Regions from separate parts of the Homo sapiens genome. Here region 2 is linked to region 1. Evidence: fine-mapped expression QTL. A gene starts in region 1. The other region holds a variant in brackets. All regions are shown on one strand. Distances are between the middles of the regions.

What was found.
Region 2: its variant is fine-mapped to the expression of SARS1 in whole blood (INTERVAL, PIP above 0.99).

What each region holds. Positions count from the first base shown.
Region 1 is chr1:109,206,397-109,218,087 of GRCh38, forward strand. SARS1 (seryl-tRNA synthetase 1) reads left to right here and starts at 7,522. Exons shown (of 11, transcript NM_006513.4): 1 at 7,522-7,732. The coding sequence starts at 7,597. ELAPOR1 (endosome-lysosome associated apoptosis and autophagy regulator 1) reads left to right here. Exons shown (of 22, transcript NM_020775.5): 22 at 1-385. RefSeq lists a silencer at 7,316-7,535 and an enhancer at 7,586-7,945.
Region 2 is chr1:109,157,166-109,169,019 of GRCh38, forward strand. ELAPOR1 (endosome-lysosome associated apoptosis and autophagy regulator 1) reads left to right here. Exons shown (of 22, transcript NM_020775.5): 2 at 4,729-4,849; 3 at 7,334-7,526. Among named protein-coding and RNA genes, the nearest start is that of ELAPOR1, 49 kb to the left of the region's middle. The variant A/G (reference allele first, on the strand shown) is at 7,093.

The sequences.
Region 1 (11,691 bases):
GGAGTATGATAAAATGTTTAAATCTCATTTGGTTACCTTGAGTCCTGGAACATGCAGTAACTGTCATGCTATAGACATCATCTGTATTTGGCTGGGAATACAAATGAAGATTGTGGTGTATTCAAGCAGTAGGGTTTTTGCTTTTGTTTTTGTTTTAGTGCCAACAAAACTTTTTTTTGTCTGACTACATTAAAGATAAGACTGACTATATTTATACAACAGAAACTTTGTAATAGATTTTTTCAGCTTTGTGAAATCGAATTTTTTTTCATCAGGGCTGGTTGGATTTCCTTTTTACCCTGTAATCCAAGCGTTAATAGTTTGTTAGAAGATGGGTTATTGCATGTCACTTTTTTTTTTTGTAAAATAAAAACATACCTTACAAGTTGTTTTTCTTAAACATGGGTTGGGTGGCTGGAGGGGTGAGTGGGAAATGTAAGTGTCCTGGAAGCTTAAACTGAAAAGGAGAAGGATTCCACATTCGCAGAGAGGCAGAGAAAAGAGCACAGACTTTGGAACAAGATGGACATAGGCTAGAAGCCTCCCACTACTTGTTGAGGAATCAGTCAATAACCAAAGCCTCAGTTTCCACAATAATAAAATGCATCTAATGATACCCAACACACCAAGATTGAATGAGCTCAAAAGAAATAACTCATAAACCACTTCGCATGCTACTTCCCTTCCCTTCTGCTCAGGTTTCTTTCAGGAAACATGAGGCCAGCCACATAACAATAAATCCACAAATAGAAGCAAAATTAGCTTCTTTGGGTATGAAGTAGATTATTACAGACTAGATGTGGAGAAAATCCTAGATGATATCAAGGGCCTACCATTTCCTGAGGTTGCTAGATTTTTGCTTTCTTTCTTTTTTTTTTTTTTTTTCTGAGGCTCACTATGTTGCCTAGGTTGGAGTGCAATGGCACAATCTCAGCTCACTGCAGCTCCAACCTCCTGGGCTTGAGTGATCCTCCCACCTCAGCCTCCTGAGTAGCTACAGGCATGCGCCACCACACCTGGCTAATTTTTGTATTTTTTGGAGAGACAGGGTTTCACCATGTTGCTGGTCTCAAACTCCTGGGTTCTAGAGATCTGCCCACCTTGGCCTTCAAAGTGCTGGGATTGCAGGCATGAGCCAGCGTGCCTGGCAGGATTTTTCTGCTTCAGGACTTTATTCTAGTTGAGGGCACTTGATCCCCAAAAATAATTCTCTCAGCTATTAATAGATGAGTTGGGAATGTCACACTTTTCAGACTGAATGGCACTAAGTGCCAGATGTTCTTCGTCAGGGTCCTTAGGTAATTTCTAGTCTTCTAACAGGCCTCTCCGCGCCAGTGCTTCCCACACCAGTATCACCCCCCTGCTCTGTAGCCAGAGCTCTTTTTCTTTTTTTCATGAAAAGTTTTCTGGTAAAAGGCAGAAAACCTGCTAACCAAATTCTAAAAGAGGGTGTGGCGGCTCATGCCTGTAATCCCAGCACTTTGGGAGGGCCAGGCTGGAGGATCGCCTGAGGCCAGGAGGTTGAGGTTGCAGTGAGCTATGATGGTGGATTGCACCACTGCCCTCCAGCCTAGGTGACAGAGGCAGACCCTGTCTGTAAAAAAAATAAAAAAATTCTACAAGAGCTGGAACACTCAGAGCCGTTTTTCTAACACATCTGATGGCACTCAAATGTGCCATCTCTGATGGCTCCTTATTGCTGTCAGGCAGGAGCAATTGGCAGCAGCTCACCTACACTCCAAGGCTGGTTGTTTATGACCCACATCTACTTTGACTGGGTGGTACCTGGGTTGTACTGGTGGTTAAATATTTTGAACATCACCCCTGCTTATAACATACAGTCCAAACTCTAAGAAGGTAAGTAGAAAAGAAAACGCATTCGTTTGGCATCTGTGTCAAGCCTGGACTTAATGCTTTCACAGCATTGCCTTTTTTCATTTTCAGAACAGCCCTGGAGGCAGCTACTATCCCCATTACACCCATTACAATAGAGGAAGAAACTGTGTCTCCAATAGATTCAGTTACGTGGCCTACAGGGTCCCTAACGGCCCACCGGCCCACCTTCCCAACATTGTTTCTACTCTAACCACACTGAGCTTTTGATGGTCTCTGAGTCATAAGCACCTTCATGCCTCCAGCATTGGAATATGCTCTCCTCTCTGCCCCTCTGCTTCCTTTTCACCTCACAGATCCCACTCAGCCTTCCACGTCACCCCACTGTGGGAAATAACAGGGCAAAAACAGTCCCATGGGAGTACCGCTATGAATCTTTATGAATACAACCGTGTACTGTGCAATGCAACAAACAAGCAACAGACACAATCAAGCTTGAAACTGCGGGGCAGTGAGAGGGGTGTGTAATGATATGGAAATGATTTTAAGAATTTCCCAATCACTGACAAAGAAGTAAAATACATTATCAGGTGACCAGGCAAGAATATACTTACGACTTGGTCTAAATCTTAAGGAAGACAATTAATTAACTGGGAAGCATAGAGCAACAATGAGTATTAAGAGATAGAGAAACTGATTTAGGGTTTTTAAGAGCTATTCAAGGAGAATTTGAAATATAAACTAATTTTGTCTCAGTGCCAAAGTTAACAATCCCACATAAAATGCAATTCCCTATAGAGTAGTTCAGCCTTAACGGTACTTTCACTTTCCACAGTTTCAGTTACCTAAAGTCAACTTAAGTCAAAAAATATTAAATGAAAATTCCAAAAATAAACAATTTATAAGTTTTAAATTGTATGCCATTATGAGTAGCATAATGACATCTTGTGCCATCTCACTCCTTCCCACCTGGGACATGAATCATCCCTTTGTCCAGAGTATCCATACTGTCTGCACTATCCACCCATTACTCACTTAGCAGCCATCTGAGTTACCAGATCGAAAAAGCACAGTATATGTAGGGATCCGTACTCTCCGTGGTTTCAGGCATCCACTGGAGACTACCGTAAGATACAGTGTGGTGGGAGAATTGATTTCGCACCCCAATTCTATCAGATGGAGAGGCTGGATCAAAGTCCCTCCAAGTCCTGGCAGCTTTCCCCGACCCACGCTATTTTTAAATGATTCCTGCTTAGTTGCTGAAGGATAGCAACGTGGACCTCCTTTGTTACTGTGTCTCTCTGATAGAAGGGAGTGGGTAAGCCAGAACTGGAGGCAGGGTTGTCAGTTCCTCCTGAAACAGTATCATCAATACTACTGTACTGTGGGAAACGGGAAGGGTGTCTAACCAATTTGCAGGGAGGGGTAAAGAGGATGTAAGAGAAGGCTTCCAGGAGAAAGGAGGAATTAGCCAGGTAAGAGGAACAGAGAAGGGAAAGGGAGTTCCAGGTAGAAGGAACTTGTGCAACCAAAGGCTCAGAGGGAAGGAAGGGAGCCACAAGAAGGTTGGAATGGGGAATACGAGGGGGAAATGTTAAGAGATAAAGAGGGCCAGGTGAGGTGGCTCATGCCTGTAAACCCTGCACTTTAAGAGGCCAAAGTGGGTGGATTGCTTGACCCCAAGAGTTCGAGACCAGCTTGGGCAACATGGCAGAACCCTGTATCTACCAAAACAAAAACAAATACAAACATTGCCTGGGGCATGGTGGCACACATCTGTAGTCTCAGCTACTCGGGAGGCTGAGGTGGGAGGATCCCCTGAAGCTGGAAATGTCGAGGCTGCAGTGAGCCATGGTTGTACCACTGTTTTCCAGCCTGGGCAACAGAGTGAGACTCAGTCTCACATACACACACACACACACACACACGAGATAAAGAGGGAACATGTTAGAGAAGCTGGTAGGGACAGATCATATATAGCGTTGCCAGCCATGTTTGGATTCCCCTGAGGGTAACAGGTATCCACAGAAGACTTCTAGCAAGGGAGTGACAGGACCGGACTTGTTCGGTGAACATTGAGAAACCCTACTCCAAATCCAAGACAGAGGAACACAAAGGGCTGCCACAGTGAGGCCTCAGAGAACCCTTCCGAGTTAGCCAGCTCCAAACTGGGAAAACTGAGGTAGGCAGCTTTTGTTGGGTGCCTCACACCCGCTTTTTTTGCTCCGTCTCTGCAGTTGCTCTTTTCCCCTAGGCTGCCCACTAGCTGCCCAGGATCCCCAAGGCAGTATCTTCACCCAGGACTCTGCTCGCTGACCTGCAACAAGCTCCCATCCTCTCAGCCTACTTCCTCGCAACCCACTCACTCAGGGAGGATGTAACAAGCACTTACCATGGGTAAGGCAGGGTGCTAGGTCCCGTGGGGAGAAAAATGCAAATACGCAATGGTCTCTGCCCTATAAGATCAGGCCCCATAGCATAGTCAGGGTCCTCACTGACCTGTTTTCTGCTAAGGATTGCTACTAAAAGGGCAAAGCCCAAACATTAGGCTATCTTAGGTATTTACCTGTGTCCTGGTTTTGATTCCATCACTTATCTTCTCTGGGGCTGTTTCCTTATATAGAAAATAAAAGGGTTAGCCTGGCTGGCTGTTTTCCAGTCAGGGCTTCTTGAGCACTTCAGTCCTCAGAGGCAGTGCCCAAGAGCATTCTTGGTAGTAAGGGTTAACAGAAATCACATATTCAAAGGTGGCAGGGCTTCACACCATCACTCCATAACGAAAGTTTTTATGTTGATTTGTTTTTGCGTTAGCTTCTGGCAGGAGTTACTTGGTGCAGTAACACTGCCTATTTCCTGCTGATCAGAATTTCTAGGTGGCAGCCATATAGATCTGATTAATAAAAAAGGCAAATTATTATTTTTTAAAAATCATGTTCATTAGACAAAAATATTTCAAAACATGAGGGACAAGGTGATGAAAAAATCAGGAATTATTAAGTTAACAGATAGCTGAAGCTCCCCTCCAACTCTAAAAATCCCACGATTCTAAGCTGATGAAGTATGCTATTATGTTAATTTATTATACTCATCAGGTAACATCAACTTTTTTTTTTTTTTTTTTGATACAGAGTCTCACTCTGTTACCCAGGCTGGAGTGCAGTGGCGTGATTTAAGCTCACTGCAACCTTCGCCTCCTGGGTTCAGGCAATTTTTGTACCTTAGCCTCCCAGGTAGCTGGGATTACAGGCATGTGCCACCACACCCAACTAATTTTTGTATTTTTAGTAGAGACGGGATTTTGTCATGTTGGCCAGGCTGGTCTCGAACTCCTGACCTCAGGTGATCCACCCACCTTGGCCTCCCAAAGTGTTAGGATTACAGGCATTAGCCACCGCGCCCGCCCATATGAACATTTTAAAGGGAGATGTTTGTAATCTAATGATAAGATCAATTGTAAAAATGCATGAATAAATTTGGAGAGATCAGAATTTCAAGATCACTTGTTGAATGACATTGATGACCTTCCTAAAGGGTTGACCCAGTGGCCCTCCTCCCCTAGGCCTGGGATCACTTCAGCCTCAGAAACACCTGCCACTGTTTTAGAAACTTAATTGGCAATACACTTTGGCGGTGCCTTCAATGACATGGAAGCAGGGAGCGCCCCCATCACAGACCTTGCCCTCAGAAGGTTTTAGGGAACCCAACACTTTGAGGAGAGTCTTCTTAGATGTTTTCCTCCAAGACTGCAGCTCCTCACCCTTCCTTTCCACTGGTTTTAAATCTAATACCATAGGCAGGTTGAACCAAGGAGAGCACACCCAGACAAGCCCCTTTCCTCTGCCTCCCTCAGGGTCTCTACTTAGCTCTATCATTGTTGTTAGACCTGACCTACACTTCAGGGTTGGCTTGGCAGAGGCTTTTTGGGGAGCAGGGATAGTGTAAGAGGCAAAAAAAAACAAAAAACAAAAAACAAAAACAAAAACCCACACTCAACACACAACATTTCTGTGACCAGATGCAGTGGTGAGGGGCCCTGGGGGGTAAGTTCCTCAGACACCAAGCGATTCTCCAGTGGACATTGGCTAAGCATTCTATAATTCAATTCGATTCTGATTCTGACACTAGCTACCTGGAGGTAGTGTCAGATTCCATGGGGTAAGGGCTTGATCCCACTAGACTGCTCCTCTTCAGATGCCAATTGCAAGTAGTAGATTTCACCTATACTTCTTAGCAGCTATAAACTGGGGCTCCCACTACCCCCTCCTTTGGTCTGATTAATTTGCTGAGAAGGCTCACAGACCTCAAGGAAACATTTACCAGTTTATTATAAAGGATAGTACAAAGGGTACAAATGAACAGCCAGATGAAGAGATGGATAGGGCAAGGTGTCAGGGGTGCAGAGCTTCCATAACCTTTCTGGGCAAGACACCCTCCTGGCATCTCCACATGTTCAACAACCCTGAAGCTCATCAACTCTTGTTGTTCGAGCGTTTATAGAGTTTGATGTCCAGCTCCTCCCCTCCCCCTTTCCTGGAGGTTGAAGGGTGGGGATGAAAGTTCCAATCCTCCAATCACTTGGTCTCTCTGGTGACTGGCCCCATCCTAAGGTTATCTAGGGCCCCCATCCTAAATCACCTCCTTATTATAAACTCAGGTGTTATCAAAGAGACCCATTACGTATAACCCAGGAAATTCAAGGGTTTTAGGGGCTGTGTCAGGAACCAGGGACAAAGCCCAAATATATTTCATATTATAAATAAATAATATGATAGTTAGCTATGTCACACCCTCATCTCAGGAGTCCATGACGGCGGTATAAGATCAAGAAGGTCTTAGCACATCTAGCTTCGAGAAGGCATTGGAAGTGAGGCTTTAAAGTTTCTGCAGAGTGGAAGGATTGGGGGTGGGGGTGGGGGAGGAGATCACCTGTTCCCAAATCCTTCAAATAATCTCTTGTTATCAGGGAGATTCTTTGATAACTTTGGCTTCACTCGGCAACTAGAATATTTCATTTAAAGGTCTGAACATTATAAAATCAAAGTATGATACAAACCGTTCTTCAAGACGCTTTCAAATTGACCCAAGACATGACCTCAACACCTTATACGGCGTTCAAATCTGCTTAATGTCCCTTTGGAAAAGTTTTCTCTCGTCTCTCTCTAAAAGACAACCGCACTTTCCCAAAGCTGTGCTCTTAAGAGTTGGTAAAGTGACAATTTGGTTTATCCAATAATCAGATTAATAAAGGTATACCATTTCTAAGGCACGAGAGCAGGAATCTTAAGCTGAGGTAGCCCTGGGACTAAATATGCCATCCTCTTGTATCAAGATGGAGAAGACGGCCGAGGTTCAGGGAAAGAGCCCAGTGGAAGAACCCAACCTAGTGAGAGGAAAACGGGCACCTGGTGAAGGCCCCGGCCTCTAAGCTAGGGATGAGGGGACAGGCCTCTGCCTAGCCTGAGACAGGAGTAGGAAACTGAGGCATTCACACTTTTATGTGGCGATCACAGTTCCTGCAGACTGTAGCAGAGCTGGGGAGCAGGAACCAGAGGTATAGTCCCACGCCCACCCACTCTCCCCTCCCCTCCCTCCGCGGCCCCGCCTCCAACCAGCCGCTTCCGGTCGCGGGGAGGGTCGCCTGCGGGCTCCAGCTGCGCCTGCGCAGGAAGGGCGGGTCAGCGCGCCGGCGCAGTGCGGCGGTCACAGGCTGAGTGCTGCGGCGCGATCCTTGCTTCCCTGAGCGTTGGCCCGGGAGGAAAGAAGATGGTGCTGGATCTGGATTTGTTTCGGGTGGATAAAGGAGGGGACCCAGCCCTCATCCGAGAGACGCAGGAGAAGCGCTTCAAGGACCCGGGACTAGTGGACCAGCTGGTGAAGGCAGACAGCGAGTGGCGACGATGTAAGTACCGGGACGGGCGGGTTACCTCCTTGATGCTAAACCCAATTTTCTCTCTCAAATCCAGCCACCGCTCCTGAGGCCACAGCTTCCACCCTTCGTCAGACCCCCTCCCAGGGTGCGGTGGCTCCGAGGTTCTCCCCATCCCCGAAAACACAGCCTGGTCGCCGGGGTCATCCCACTTTCTCCTCCACCCGGGCGGAGCGAGGTCCCTTCCACGCGTGCTCAGTGCCGTTCGCTGCCAGTGTGCGTACGCACGCGCATCGGGAGCTGTCAAGCCTTCCTGCCCCAGGGGTTGCCAGAACATGCCGGGGCGGGAGGTTGTGGGGTCTACGCGGCTTTCCTAACACGAATCTTTGGTCCCCCCCAGTCTTTTTCTCATCTTCAGCAAGGCCAGAGTGGTTTTCCTTTGTTTTGATAGGATCAAAGGCTTCTCCTGAGACTGCGTCACTTCTGCAACACAGTAGATTCATTCCTTCGGTATCGGAAGCATTTCGGGGCGTTGGAGGCCGCTCTTGGCCAAAATAAATGACCCTGAAGCTTTTCGGAAGGCCATCCCCCGACCTATGGGCATACCTTTAAGAATTAGAAAAGTCTTTTCCGTGGTAGATCAAACGCGAGGGGAGTGAGGAGGCGAGCAAAAGATTGTAATGACTGAAGCTGTTTAATTGTGATTTGTGGACGTTTTCCTTTAAAGACATTGGCAGAGTTGGGCTAGAACCTGGAACTGCCGGATCTTGGAGTCATATCGGGCATCTATCATGAAGCCGAATAAAACCATAGAACCATCTGCCCATAAATCTCTGCCTGTATTAACTGGAGTGGTCGCTGGTTGGGCGGATGCTGTCAAGTACTTGTGATTTGATTTGTCTGATGCAATAGGTCTGCAACCATCTGGGAGCTAGGTCGATGACAGTACACTGCAAAGGCAGCCACTATCCAAGAGTGTGATGGATTTCTATTAGGAAAATTGATTTTCTCCTGTTTATAAGGATCTTGGATGTCAAAAGAATATTTGTTTAACTTGAGTTTTGTGCTGATTCTATGTCTTAGGCCCTCTATTGTAGTAGTTTGTTTGATTGTGAGATTCCACACTTGACCTGAAGTTTCGAGTTGCAATGGAATTTAATTTTGCCACATTTTTTGTTTAGGATAAAACTAGCCTGAGCACTGTTCTACTGAATCTGAAGTCAGGAGTATCAGATTTTTGTGTCAGTCCAGCCCTTAGCCAGTGCTAAATGACTTTGAATGTGTTAGCTAGTCTTTTGGGTATAATGTCCACATCTGAGGGATTTGTCCCTTATCTGAAAAGTAGATAGGTGGTGAGTTCTTCAGGGACAAGGATTCAATTTTATTCATACAGTATATATGTGGATATACATATACACATTTATACATAAAATCCCAGTACCTAGCACTGTACCTGGTCCTTGGTAAGGCCTTGATAAAGGTTTGTTAGAGGCGTGAATATTTTCTGTCTTCAGGGCACTTTATATTCTTTATGAAAAGCAGTTTATGTAGTTTATGTTATTGTTTTAAAAAACTTAATCCTAAATGTGAAGTCATTTCTTTTCTTTGTTTTGTTTTGTTTTGTTTTTGAGACGGAGTCTCTCATTATCACCCAGATTGGAGTGCAGTGGCACCATCTCGGCTCACTGCAACCTCCATCTCCCGGTTTCAAGAGATTATCATGCCTCAGCCTCCAAGTAGCTGGGACTACAGGTGTGCACCACCACACCCAGCTAATTTTTTTTTTTAGTTGAGATGGGAGTTTCACCATGTTGGCCAGGCTGGTCTCTAACTCCTGACCTCAAGTGATCCGCCTGCCTCAGCCTCCCAAAGTGCTGGGATTACAGGTGTGAGCCACCATGCCTGGCCAATAGTTTATTTCCAATGCATCTATTAATTTGATTCTTTTCTATTTGACAACCCTTTCCAATATTCTCTTTGCATCCAAATGGAATTTATGTTTTTTCCCAAGTTCCCAACTGCCCAAGGTAGACACTGGCAGATTTATATCAAGGTTCTTTGACATCTTGAACTTCAGATCAGAGGATGGAGTTCTTCTCTCATTGCCTTGAGCAAGGGCTTATAACCAGAGCCACATTAAGAACTCAGATCATGCTCCCTAATTGAGGACACATAGCAAGCTTCACCAAGCCCTCCACTACAACTATACCAATTTGTCTTCCTGTAGACTTACAAGGTACCACTAGGGTTCCTTTGGAGAACTCAGGAGTCCAGTATAACTTGGAGTGATAATACCACATTGGAACTCACAACTCTTCTAACTCCAGGGATTTGAATGTGATTTCTTCTTTTTAATTCAGAGTAGCGTAATGATCCTACACTTGGGCATATTTGTCTTGGCCCCACTCCCAAAGCAAATAGATTTCCATGTAACTGGAAATCTGCTGCAAACCCCAAGAATTTTATCCTCCCTCAAAAAGTGCTATCCTGAGTGGTTTTTTTTTTCTTTTTACTGTACATTGAAAATTGAAGTTGTTGTTTCCTTTTTTTTTAATTTGAGACAAGGTCTCACTGTGTCACCCAGGCATGATCACAGCTCACTGCAGCCTCAATCTCCCCAGGCTCAGATGATCCTCCTGCCTTAGACTTCTGACTAGCTGAGACTACAGGCGCAATGCCACCATGCCTGGCTAATGTGTGTATTTTTTGTAGAGATGGAGTTTCGTCATGTTGCCTAGGCTGGCCTCAAACTCCTGGCCTCAAGCGATCCTCCCACCTCGGCCTCCCAAAGTGTTGGGATTACAGGCATGAGTCACCATGCCCAGGCTAAAGCTGTTATTTCCTCATAACCTTTACTGCACATGTTTTAAAACAGGTCCTTATCATTGTTTGCCCCAGCAACTGGAATAGCTTTCTATCTGCTTTCAATCTTAACCCAGTCTCACCAGGGCATATAATCTTTCTAGAATGCAAATCTGATCATTTTACTTGAAGGCTTAAGTTTTGCAGTGACATACTTTAGAGCAGCACTGTCTGATAGGAATAGAATGTTAGCTTCATGTATACAGATGCTCCTTGACTTAGGATGGGTTTATGTCCCAATAAATCCACCATAAGTTGAAAATATTGTAAGTAAAAAATGCATGAAATACACATACCCTACTGAATATCATAGCTTAGCCAAGCCTACCTTAAATGTGCTCAGAACACTGATGTTAACCTACAGTTGGGAAAAATCATCTTACACAAACCCTATTTTATAATAAAGTGTGAATATCTCATGTAATTTATTACTATTGATCATAAAGTTTAAGCATTATAAGTTGGCGATAGTCTGTAATTGTTAATTTGTTTGTATCCAATATAAAAAATATAAAGAGAAACAGATGAAATTAATTTTAGTAATACATTTTATTTAACCTAGTCTTGTATACCCAAAAGTTATATATATATAAATATATATATAATTATTATTATTATTTTTAGACAGCGTCTTGTTCTGTTGCCTAGGCTGGAATGCAGTGGCATGATCACAGCTCACTGCAGCCTGGACCTCCTGGGCTCAACTGGTCCTCCCACCTCAACCTTCTAAGTAGCTGGGACCACAGGTGTGCACCACCATGCCCAGCTAATTTTTAATTTTTTGTAGAGACAGAGTCTCACTTTGTTGCCCAGGCTGGTCTCGAATTCCTGGACTCAAGTGATCCTCCCACTTCGACCTCCCACACTGCTGGGATTACAGGTGTGAACCACCACGCCCAGCCCCGAAATTATATTTTCAACACATAATCAGTATTTTTAAATTACTGAAACTAGCCCGGTGCGGTGACTCACTCCTGTAATCCCAGCACTTTGGGAGGCCGAGGCAGGCAGATCACAAGGTCAGGAGATCGAGACCATCCTGGCTAACACGGTGAAACCCCATCTCTACTAAAAATACAAAAATAATTAGCCGGGCATGGTGGGGGGCGCCTGTAGTCCCAGCTACTCGG
Region 2 (11,854 bases), 49 kb before region 1:
TATGTAAGTGTGACAGGAGCCTACACAGGCTGCTCTCAAACACCGGCAGCCTTGAAAACAGATTCTGGACTCAGATAGCCTGGGTCCAATCCTGGTTTGGCAGTTCCTGGCTGTGTGGCTTTGAGCAAGTGACTTTGCCTCTCAATGACTCAATTTTCCCATCTGTAAAATGGTAAAATAATTTACCATTGAATTGTTTTGGAGATTGGAAAACCTACTGTGTGATGTGCTTGACCTACATCATCTTAATCATGCTCACAGAGGGCCCTATCGCACATGGGGAAAAGGCACTCCCTCTCTGGGCAGATGCAACACCTGAATAGGGCATACCACCTAGCATGCAAGACTTGAGCTAGATTTCACCCTCCACTCATGCCCTGAGCTAGGTAACCTTATGAATAGCCTGCATAACTATACAGCAGCCCAGCCCCTCTATGATGCAGGAGTTTGTATATCCCCATTTTTCAATGAGGCAGCTATGGCTTAGGGAAGTCAAGCACCATGTGGGAAGGGGCGGTGGGATCACTTCTAATTTGCCTATTTACTTAGGGCACATGAAAGAGGCTAACCCAGTCCCTAGGACTCTCCTCCACCTGAATTGTGGACCACATCTCTGTCATCAGCTAACCAGCTTAAACCTTATTCATCTTCCACAGTGGATGGTAATGAAGTACAGCTCTAGCATCTAACCCATAGATTACCTCCAATCTCTAGTCTATAAACAGTTCCTTTTTTTATTTGAGACAGGGTCTCACTCTGTCATCTGGGCTGGAATGTAGTGGTACAATCACGGCTCACTGCAGCCTCAACCTCCCAGGCTCAGGTCATCCTCCCACCTTGGCCTGCTGAGTGGCTGGAACTACAGGCACATGCCACCACGACCGATTAATTTTTGTATGTTTAGTAGAGACGGGGTTTCACCATGATGGCCAGGCTGGTCTCAAACTCCAGACCTCAAGTAATTCGCCCACCTTGACCTCCCAAAGTGCCAGAATTACAGGTGTGAGCCACTGCGTCTGGCCTCTAAACTGTTACTTTGATAATCATTTTTAAAAGTAACAGATACTATTTTGAAAGCAAGTGGTGGGAAGGTAGAAGGAAGGACAGATTTCCATCCAGATACCATCCTGACTTGACAGTTTTCTTTTTTTTTTTTTTTTTGGTCATTTCAGCAGTCCATTCAATACCTAGACAGTAAGGACTAAAAATATTGTGAGTCTGAGTGAATTCTTCTAGAACTGAAAGATCAGTGTTACCGACAGATCAGTCAATACAGGCAAAGCATATTCCAGTTTCAGGGTTTTTTTCCTCTTCCTTCTCATGTGCCCAGGAGTATTACATGGCTGGGTGACGCTACGGAAGGATGCGCTAACTACAGTTCCCCACCCTCTCATTTCTAAACCCTTCCTTTGTTTTTCTGATGAACAGGCAGCACCCACTGCCTGCTGTGTCCCATTTAGCAGTGTAATTTGGGTGTGCGTCATAGAATTGTGCACAGGGAGGGGGAAGGAGTTACGTGCTGGATGTATATACTGAACGTGTTTATGTGCTCCTTTGTAGACCTGCACTTTATGCAAATTATATACTTTCAGACAGATCACTGAGTAAACTGAGTAACAGATCACTGAGTAAACTGTCAGGGAATTGATGTGTTTGCAGAACGCTGAATATAATTGAGGAGTCCTGCCAGTTCTATCCCTGGTTTAACTCTCTCTAAGCTTATGTCTTTTTTTTTTTTTTTTTTTAGACGGAGTCTTGCTTTTTTTGCCCAGGCTGGAGTAAAGTGGCGTGATCTTGGCTCACAGCAACCTCTGCCCCCACTCCCAGGTTCAAGCGATTCTCTTGCCTCAGCCTCCTGAGTAGCTGGGATTACAGGCGCGTGCCACCACACCTAATTTTTGTATTTTTAGTAGAGACAGAGTTTCACCATGTTGGTCAGGCTGGTCTCAAACTCCTGACCTCAGGTGATCCACCCACCTTGGCCTCCCAAAGTGCTGGGATTACAGCGTGAGCCACCGTGCCCCGCCCTAAGCTTATGTCTTGAATGGTGTGATCTCAAAGTGTAGTTCAGATTTGAAACAGGTGTATTAGAACCAGCCACCTTGAATTAATATCCCCAAGTGGCATGAAGTAAATGAGCATATATTGAAAGGGAAATTTTCTTAGGCTTGGAACCACCATTTCCTCAGCAAACCTCCCACCTGAGTGAGACCCAGGGGACATCAAATGAAAGACGATGAAAAGTAATGGATTTGGCCCATGTGCCTCTAAGAGGCCAATGCAGTCAGAATGAACTGAGATGATCTTCGAACAGATTAGATATTTTAACACCAATTCTTGGGCCTCAGAAGTGAGCCTGGCTGCTGGCACACAACCAACACTGTCATGTTTAATTTTTAGATTTGGCTGTTAAATTTGGCCCTGTGTGAGTCTGTGTTTGGTCAGAGTCTATAAGGGTGGAGGAGGATTCCTGGTGGGAAGGCCTGGTTTCTAGCTCAGTGACTTATCGGCTGCATGACTTTGGACAAGCTATCACACCACTGAGAGTCATTTTCTCATCTGTACAATGAAGGAAACAACCCCTGGTCTACTTGCCTTATAGGGAGTCGTGAAGATGAAACGAGATGGTATTTGGGAACTGTGAACACACTACACAAAAGACCAGCATGAATATGTTCAGAAGCACCACACAGTCCTTTCTGCCTTGCTCACTCAATTCTCCATTTAATTTATACACAGTGGATTTTACCCCTCATTCTTGCAGCAAAACCCTTTTGAGAGTATCATTTTAAGAAGTGGATTGACATCATATATGTATAGTTGCCCTATTTGTCCTCAGAGTCTGAGATGAGGAAAAGACAAGAATTATTGGGAAAAATAGACCCAGAGAGGGCACAAAGAATTCCCATCCTGATGTTCTTTCTTTCCTAGATGACATTGACATCTACATCCAAAGCCAAAGATTCTGGTCAAGAGTTAATCTATTGGCTGGGCATGGTGTTGCATGTAGTGGCTCCTGTAGTCTCAGCTACTTGGGAAGCTGAGGTGGGAGGATCACTTGAGCCCAGGAAGTCAAGATTACAGTGAGCCATCATCACGCCACCGCACTCCAGCCTGGGTGACAGAGCAAGAGACTGTCTAAAAAAAAAAAAAAGAAAAGAAACTACATCTTTACCATATTGCAACAAGTCTGAAATGCCACTGCTTCTAAGACACCATTTTTTTAATGTGTCATCAAGAAAGAAAAAGCTCTCTATCCCTTAAAACATAACACAATTCTTCCTTACTGTGTCAATTTTAAGACACGTCTTGATTTCATAGATGTTAGATGTGGAAAAAGCGTGCATCTTGGAATAGATGAAATGCAGTGTGTTTACCTATCCCCAAAAATAAAGCTTATTCCTTTTGATCCTGACGCATTATTAGATTAGCAAACTTCAAAACTTGTATTTTTTGTCTTAGCTCCTTGACGTTATACATGTTATGCAATCAGGCTATCACGTGGGTTAAAGGGGGACATTAATTCTATTTTTCTTATGCATACAGTAATACAAAATACCTCTGGGCTTGAATATAGTTTTAGGTAAGTGTAGATTGTAAAATACTTGTCAGAGCCAAAATCATCACTAATTCCATGGTCTGTTGTTTATTACCAGATTTAAAGGAGGAAGAAACGCTTAAGGGCATTTGGCACATCAATTGTGTTTTCTTTGTTCTGAGTGGAACTGTTTGTTGTTGTTGTTTTACTTAATGCTTGATTTGGTTGTTTTGTTGTTATTCCATTTATTTTTAGCTCAGGTAAAACAATTAAACTATGAGTTTCCCATTGCACAGACAAATTAGGGATGAACAGGCTCAAGTGAGAGCACATCACCTGCCTCGGCCAAATATATTTTCATAAAATGCAATTGGGAATTCATAGTCTTTCTGAGTGGAAAGGAGCATAAGAAACACAGGGAAATAGGGCCAGGCGTGGTGGCTCATGCCTGTAATCCCAGCATTTTGGGAGGCCAAGGCAGGTGGATCACAAAGTCAGGAGTTTGAGACCAGCATGGCTAACATGGTGAAACCCCGTCTCTACTAAAAATACAAAAATTAGCCTGGCGTGGTGGCACTCGCCTGTAGTCCCAGCTACTCGGGAGGCTGAGGCAGGAGAATCGCTTGAACCCAGGAGGCGGAGGTTACGGTGAGCCAAGATCATCCCACTGCACTCCAGCCTGGGCGACAGAGCGAGACTCCGTCTCAAAAAAAAAAAAAAAAAAAAAAAAGAAACACAGGGAAATAGAAATACATACCACTTCTGTGAGGAGCCTTTGTAAATTTTTTGTGGACTAAGGCTTCCATTTAGAACATCCTTCCATTTAGAATGTCCTCGTTCATAAATTCTACACTTTGGAATAAGAAAAATTCCACCTATTTCTAGCCTGTTCCTTAGTTACCTTTCCCACGTTCCTCTGCTCCATAAGGACACTACTTAAACATAACAACAAAGAGAGTCACACACAAAAATGATTTCTAGGGACTAGACCATGGCTGGGTGGAAGGGAATGATCCAAATCATTGTAGTTCTTGTACTCGGTTCATAATCATCAGCTCCCTGCCCGGGGTCCCAGGGCCCATTTCTGAGAGGATGAGCATCAGTAGCCATGGTGCTGGGAAGTGGGTGGGAAGCTGTTAATGTTTGATCACTGCTAATGCACATTTCGCCCACTGTTCTCTCCCCTGCAGTCTGAGTACCACTATGAGTACACGGCGTGTGACAGCACGGGTTCCAGGTGGAGGGTCGCCGTGCCGCATACCCCGGGCCTGTGCACCAGCCTGCCTGACCCCATCAAGGGCACCGAGTGCTGTAAGCAGCTATCCTGCTCAGGGCCTCCCTGTCACTCAGCTTTGGTCTCTCCCCCAAGTCTCCTGCCATCCAATCTGGGCCCTTCCTGGCAGAGCAGCTGCATTAAGGAATCAGATCTTTTCCCCAATTAGTCCCCACATCCCAGACCCTTATGAGATTTGGTGCAGAAGTATTTCATGAATGCAAACTGGATATCTGAATTTGCTTTCATTTTTTAAAGGAATTTAAATCCCATCAGTGGATACAGCATAAGCAATGCCAGCTGTGTGCACTCAGATATTCTTTTCTGTTTGCATACATTTTCATTTTTGCCTTGTATGTCTCTCCAATCTACACTCACTCACCAGCCACAATCAGTCATTAGGCAAGATTGAGATTTGCTTTCATTCTTAAAAAGGAAGTCAGAGAGGCTAAGTTTCTGCAGAGACGTCCTTTAAAATGCTCCAGGCATCACTTCAGGAGACAAGAATCTTCTTGACTGTGGGTCTGATTGTGCAATAGGAAAGGCAGTGGCTTGCCGCAGCCCCAGCACCCGCCTCTGTGACTCTGCAGTCACAACTTTTCTACAATTGGCAGCTGTTTCCCCTGCATTATTCTTTTAGGAATGCAAAGGGAATAACAAGAAAAACCAGGCACTAGATTTAAGGAATTATCTGAAGAGTTGGAAAGGAGTTTGAAGATATTTAAATTCTAAAATCAGCTTAGTACAGTGCCTGGTTGAGTAAGTGAGCAAATAAATACTTGTTAAATTAATGACTGGATATTGCTGAGACCTGAGCAGAACTGAGGTGTGACTAGTGGAAACAAATGAGCCATCTTCATTGAACTCTGCTGACTTCAGTGAGTCCCACTATGTGTTAGCACCATGATGTGCACATGCAGTGTGAACTGCAAAGACAAATAAGGCACACTCTCTGCTTTCAGAAGCTTAGGGTGGTGGAAAGTGCAGACATTCATTCATTCACTCATTGTTTCAGAAACATTCATGAAGCTCCCAGTCTGTGCCAGTCACTGAGCCAGCCATCCCCAGAGGAGCGCAGAGCCTAGTGGGTGGCAGACATATATGATATGAGAAAGAATGAGAGTTACGAATATTTAGGGATCAGGCATAGCTGGGAGGGCCACTTGAGCAAAAGTTTAGACGTGGATGAAGAGTGACACATTTGAGGAAGAGCTTGTGGTCCAGGGTAGAGGCAACACAGAGAAGGTGATGGATGGAGTTGAGGTGAAAAAAGATTTGTAGTGGGAGGTCAAGCTGGGAAGTTAGGCTGCAGGGAAATCGTGGAAAACTTTGAATGCCAGGCCAAGAGCATAATTCTAGAACCAAAAGGGAGTGCCTGTTTATTTTTAAAATAAGGAGAATAATAGTACATACGTGTTTTACTTTTTATTTTTTTAAAGACAAGGTCTCACTCTGTTTCCTAGGCTGAAGTACAGAGGTGCAATCATAGCTCTGTAGCCTCGACCTCCTGGGCTCAAGTAATTTTCCCACCTCAGCCTTTTGAGTAGCTAGGATTACAGGCACACGCGACCACTCCCAGCTAATTTAAACATTTTTTTTTTTGGTAGTGACAGGGTCTCACTGTGTTGCCCAGGTTGGCCTCAAACTCCTGGGCTCAAGTGATCCTCCTGCCTTGGTCTCTCAAAGTGTTGGGTTTACAGGTATGAGCCACTGTGCCTGATCACATCTGTTTTAGAAAGGTACCTCTGACCACAGAATGAGCAAAAATAAGAATAGGGAACTAGTTAGGAGGATATTGCAATGATTGAGTTAACAGGTCATGAGAATTCCACCTAGCATGGTGGCAGTACAACCAGAAAGGCAGAGGCCAGAGGCTCAAGGGAGAAATTCAAGGCTGAAGGGCCATGTGTCATTCAGAGGGGTCAGCACAAGAGACCTTGGCATCTTCTTCACCAGAGAGCTCTCAGAATGGTCAGGGCACCTCTCCAAAGGAAACGAGTGCCAGGAACAAGCCCAAAGTCCCACAGCAAGGCAGAGCATCCGTGGCCCTAGATCTATTTTTTTTATAACAGCTTTATTGGTATATAATTTATATGCCATGAAATTCATTCCTTTAAGGATAAAATTCAGTGGTTTTTAGAATATTCACAGCAACCATCATCACTCTCATTTCACATTTTAATCATCCTAAAAAGAAACCTCATATTATTAGCAATCTCTCCCCAGGCCCCTCCCCACAGCCCCTGGCAACCACAAATCTACTTTCTGTCTCTATGGCTTC[A/G]CCTCTTTTGGCCGTTCCATACAAATAGAATGACACATAGCAAGGAATATCACTGCTGAAAAAAAAATTTTTTTAAGAAAAATAAAATCAAATCACACAGTAAATGCCATGGCCCTAAATCTTAGTGGGCCAAACTCCTAGACCCCAACCCAGCGCTCCTCCCTTCAGCTGCTCGCAGCCCATTCACTTCTGGGGCTGCAGTGACCTCACTGCCCCACCTTGTCTCTGCCCTGTTTTCCAGCCTTCTCCTGCAACGCCGGGGAGTTTCTGGATATGAAGGACCAGTCATGTAAGCCATGCGCTGAGGGCCGCTACTCCCTCGGCACAGGCATTCGGTTTGATGAGTGGGATGAGCTGCCCCATGGCTTTGCCAGCCTCTCAGCCAACATGGAGCTGGATGACAGTGCTGCTGAGTCCACCGGGAACTGTACTTCGTGAGTCTGCACACACCCCCACCCCACCCCCAGCCCACTGGGTAAGGGGCTACAGGGCACACTGGACAGCCTCCTCCGCTGCCCCTCAGGCTGGGCAGGGAGGATGGAGGGAAGAGGAAGCCAGGCTGCCAGGGTGAGGCCTGCAGCTGTGCCCGCAAGACCAGTGGATGTGACTCTGCCTGGCCCACTCTTACTGGCCTAAACTTACCAGTGATGGACAGGCATTTGTGGGAGGTAAAAAACATGAGGAAATAAGAGAGTGGACAAGGGGGGCAAGGGTTAAATGGCCCAGTCTATTTAAAACAAAACCCAATTGGAGCTGGGCACAGTGACTCACCCCTGTAATCCCAGCACTTTGAGAGGCTAATGTGGGAGGATTGCCTGAGGCCAAGAGTTTGAGACCAGCCTGGGAAACATAGCGAGACCCCTGTCTCTACAAAAAGTTAAAAAATTTGCCAGGTGTGGTGGTGCATGTCCGTAGTCCCAGCTACTCGAGAGGCTGAGGCAAGAGGATAACTTGAGCCTAGGAGTTCAAGGTTAGACTGAGCTATGACCGCACCACTGTACCCCTGGATAACAGAGCAAGACCCTGTCTCATTGAAAAACAAAAACCGGCAGGGCGCGGTGGCTCACGCCTGTAATCCCAGCACTCTGGGAGGCCGAGGCGGGTGGATCACTTGAGGTCAGGAGTTCAAGACCAACCTGGCCATGGTGAAACCCCGTCTCTACTAAAAATACAAAAAATTAGCCAGGCCTGGTGGTGCATACCTGTGATCTCAGCGACTCGGGAGGCTGAGGCAGGAGAATCGCTTGAACTGGGAAGCGGAAGTTGCAGTGAGCTGAGATCGCACCATTGCACTCCAGCCTGGGCAACAAGAGTGAAACTCCGTCTTAAAAAAAAAAAAAAAAGAAAAACAAAAACAAAAACCAAAAAAACCAACCGGATTTCCACCACGGAATTTCAGATCAGCCAATATACTTTCTCAGCTTGACTGGAACACAATATGCAAAGCTTGGGTATCTTCCCGGCTTGGGTGCTAACTTCTTCTTCTTCTTCTTTTTTTTTTTTTTGAGACAGAGTCTCACTCTGTCGCCCAGGCTGGAGTGCAGTGGTGCCATCTTGGCTCGCCACAAGCCCCAGCTCCCAGGTTCAAGTGTTTCTCCTCCCTCAGCCTCCTGAGTAGCTGGGTTACAGGTGTGTGTGCCACAATGCCCGGCTAATTTTTTTTTTTTCTTTTTTTTGAGATGGAGTCTCGCTCTGTCACCCAGGCTGGAATGCAGTGGTGCCCTCTCCGCTCACTGCAAGCTCTGCCTCCCGGGTTGACGCCATTCTCCTGCCTCAGCCTCCCGAGTAGCTGGGACTGCAGGCACCCGCCACCACGCCCAGCTAATTTTTTGTATTTTTAGTAGAGATGGGGTTTCACCGTGTTAGCCAGGATGGTCTCGATCTCCTGACCTCGTGATCCACCTGCCTCGGCCTCCCAAAGTGCTGGGATTACAGCGTGAGCCACCGCACCCAGCTAATTTTTTTGTATTTTTTTAGTAGAGATGGGGTTTCACCATGTTGGCCAGGCTGGTCTCAAACTCCTGACCTCAGGTGATCCACCTGCCTCAGCCTCCCAAAGTGCTGGGATTACAGGCATGGGCCACCTTGGCTGCTAACTTCTGAAACTGATTCTGCCTAGCCTTTGCCCAGTGCTGGCTGAAATCTTCCAAATGCTGTGAGACCCCAATGACTAGCAAATTTTCTTGGAAAGCTCAGTCCAGGGTGCTTGGAGAACTGGATATCTATTTCAGATATGTCTTTTGTAGGCCAGGCACTATTCTGGATGCTTTACATATATTATTTTCTCTAATTCTCACAAGAACCTTGTGAAATAGGCATTACTATTTCTATTACAGAGACGAGGAACTGGAAGCTCAGCAAGGTTATGACCTGCTCTTTGTTATCCGGTTTACAGCCGGCGAGATTGAAATTCGAACCCAAGCTTCCACTGCTCCATAATGCCACATTCAAATAACATTTATTATGGGCAAGGCAACACTGGGTCCTAGGGAGCGAAAGTGGGGGGATATGAGGATGTGAAAGGCAGCCATATTGTTCCTTATTAAATATGGACAGTGAATACAGGAGGAAAGCAAGTGAAAGTTTCACTTATACCCAAACAATCAAATGGATAAGAAGGACTCAAGAATTGTATTACACTTGGATTTCTAAAAACCGGGAGCAATGTTTCCCATTCCTATACTTAAATCTTGTCTAAGCCAAGCAGTGGCTATTTAATCTGTAGTCCAATTTTAATGTTATGTTATTTTAGAGTTCAACTTGGTGTGTCAGATTCATTAGCATGACAATACTGGAGGCAGAGATAAAGCTAGAGAGCTTTAAAGCTGGAAGGAGCGGGAATGTGTGGGTTAAGACAACCAACTCCCATTTGAGTCCTAACTGAGAATGTCATTAGGCCCTGGACAAGGTGCAGACATGGCTCAGTCAATTCCTACCCATGTAAAGGAAGGATTTCTTCTCTCTCTGGGGACTGCACCGAGAGTCCAGAAATCATTATCTCTCAGAGAGGCAGGATGTGGGTGGGTTAATAACAACTTGTGTTTCCACCGCACGGACTATTTCAGGGCCTGCATCTTAAGGCATCCCACGACATCCCGGGGAGGGAGGGAGAGGATATTTCTCTGTCAATGGAGAGGAAATGGCCATCTGGAGAGCTTTTGTGGTTTCCCCATCATCCCTCAGAAAGGCAATAATTGAGCTAATACCTAGAGCGCAAGTATTTGGCTTTCCTATTCAGCTGTGCAGCTACCCAAATCCTGCCTGCTCTGCCTCAAGAGACTCCAAGCTCATCTCCTGCTTCCATTCCCAGCCTCCTCCAGGCCTGTCCACTCAGCAGCCAGATTCATCTTTCTTTTTTCTTTTTTTTAAGAAACAAGGTCTCACTCTGTCACCCAGGCTGGAGTGCAATGGCGCAATCACAGCTCACTGCAGCCTCAACCTCCCCGGGCTGAAGCCATCTTCCCACCTCAACCTCCCGCGTAGCTGGGACTGCAGGCTCATGCCACCACACCTGGCTAACTTCTTATTTTTCTAGAGACACGGTTTCACTTATGTTGCCCAGGTTGGACTCAAACTCCTGGGCTCAAATGATCCTTCCGCCTCAACCTCCCAAAGTACTGGGATTACGGATGTGAGCCACTGCACCCAGCCTCATCTCCTTAAATCCAGTCACAGTACTTTCCCGCTCAAAACCCTAGATTCAATGGCTACCAATTGCTCTTGGGATAAAGTCCACTACCTTCCCACAGCCTGCAGGGCCCTGCTGCCCTGCCCCCTGCCCTCTGCTTGTTTCCCCAGCCTCTCCCAAGTTCCTTCTGTCTTCACTTGCTGTGTTCCAGCCACACTGACCATCACACTCCTTCCCCTCCTCAGGGCATTTGAACATGTGACTCTCTGTCCCCTCTTCTATGTCTCCTACTTAACCCTCAGGTCTCTACCTAAAAATCCCTTCCTCAAAGAAACCATCCCCGACCCCACAGACTCCTGTTACACTCTCTTTATCATCCTGCATTTCTCCAATGGCACTTATCACAGTCATTGCTATGTGATTGTGTGATTAGTTAAGCTTCTGTCTCCTCAACTAGAAAGAGAATGCAAGCCCCAAGAGGGAAAGGATCATACTTGTCTTGTTCATCACTGTGTCTCCAGCATCTAACATAGTGTCTGGCTCAAAATAGACAAAATAAATAATTGGGGACAAAACAGACCAGCTGAACGGAGTCTCCATGGCAGGATTCTGAGCCTTCAGGGATCCTCCCATGGGTCCTGGGTTGATGTCCCAGGGCTAAGGTACTGGCCTGAGATCAGAAACTAGGATAAGCTAAGGGAACAGGAGTGACGTGGGTGTAATAGAAAGAATGTCATATATTAGTGGAAAAGATCAAGCAGACGCCCAAAGACTGTGACAGTGAAACAAGAATGAGAGAGAAATGTAAACATTAAAAATGAAAAACATTATATGCAGATCACAACTGGATGACCTAGGGTAAGTTTCCTAAGCACTTCTGGGCTTCAGTTTCTTCATTCTAAAAATGATGATAAAAATAGTACTCTTATAGTTGAGGTAAGGATTGATGAGATGATACTTGTAAAGAATTTAGAGCGATGCCTGACACTAGAAATCAATCAAAACATGTTGTTATTATTGAATATGAAATGTCTTCACCGGGGGCAATTCTGACAAAAATCAGAATTATGATGCATTTTGCAAATGTAACCCACTTATGGCATCTTTTAAATTATTTATTAAACTTCAAGAGTT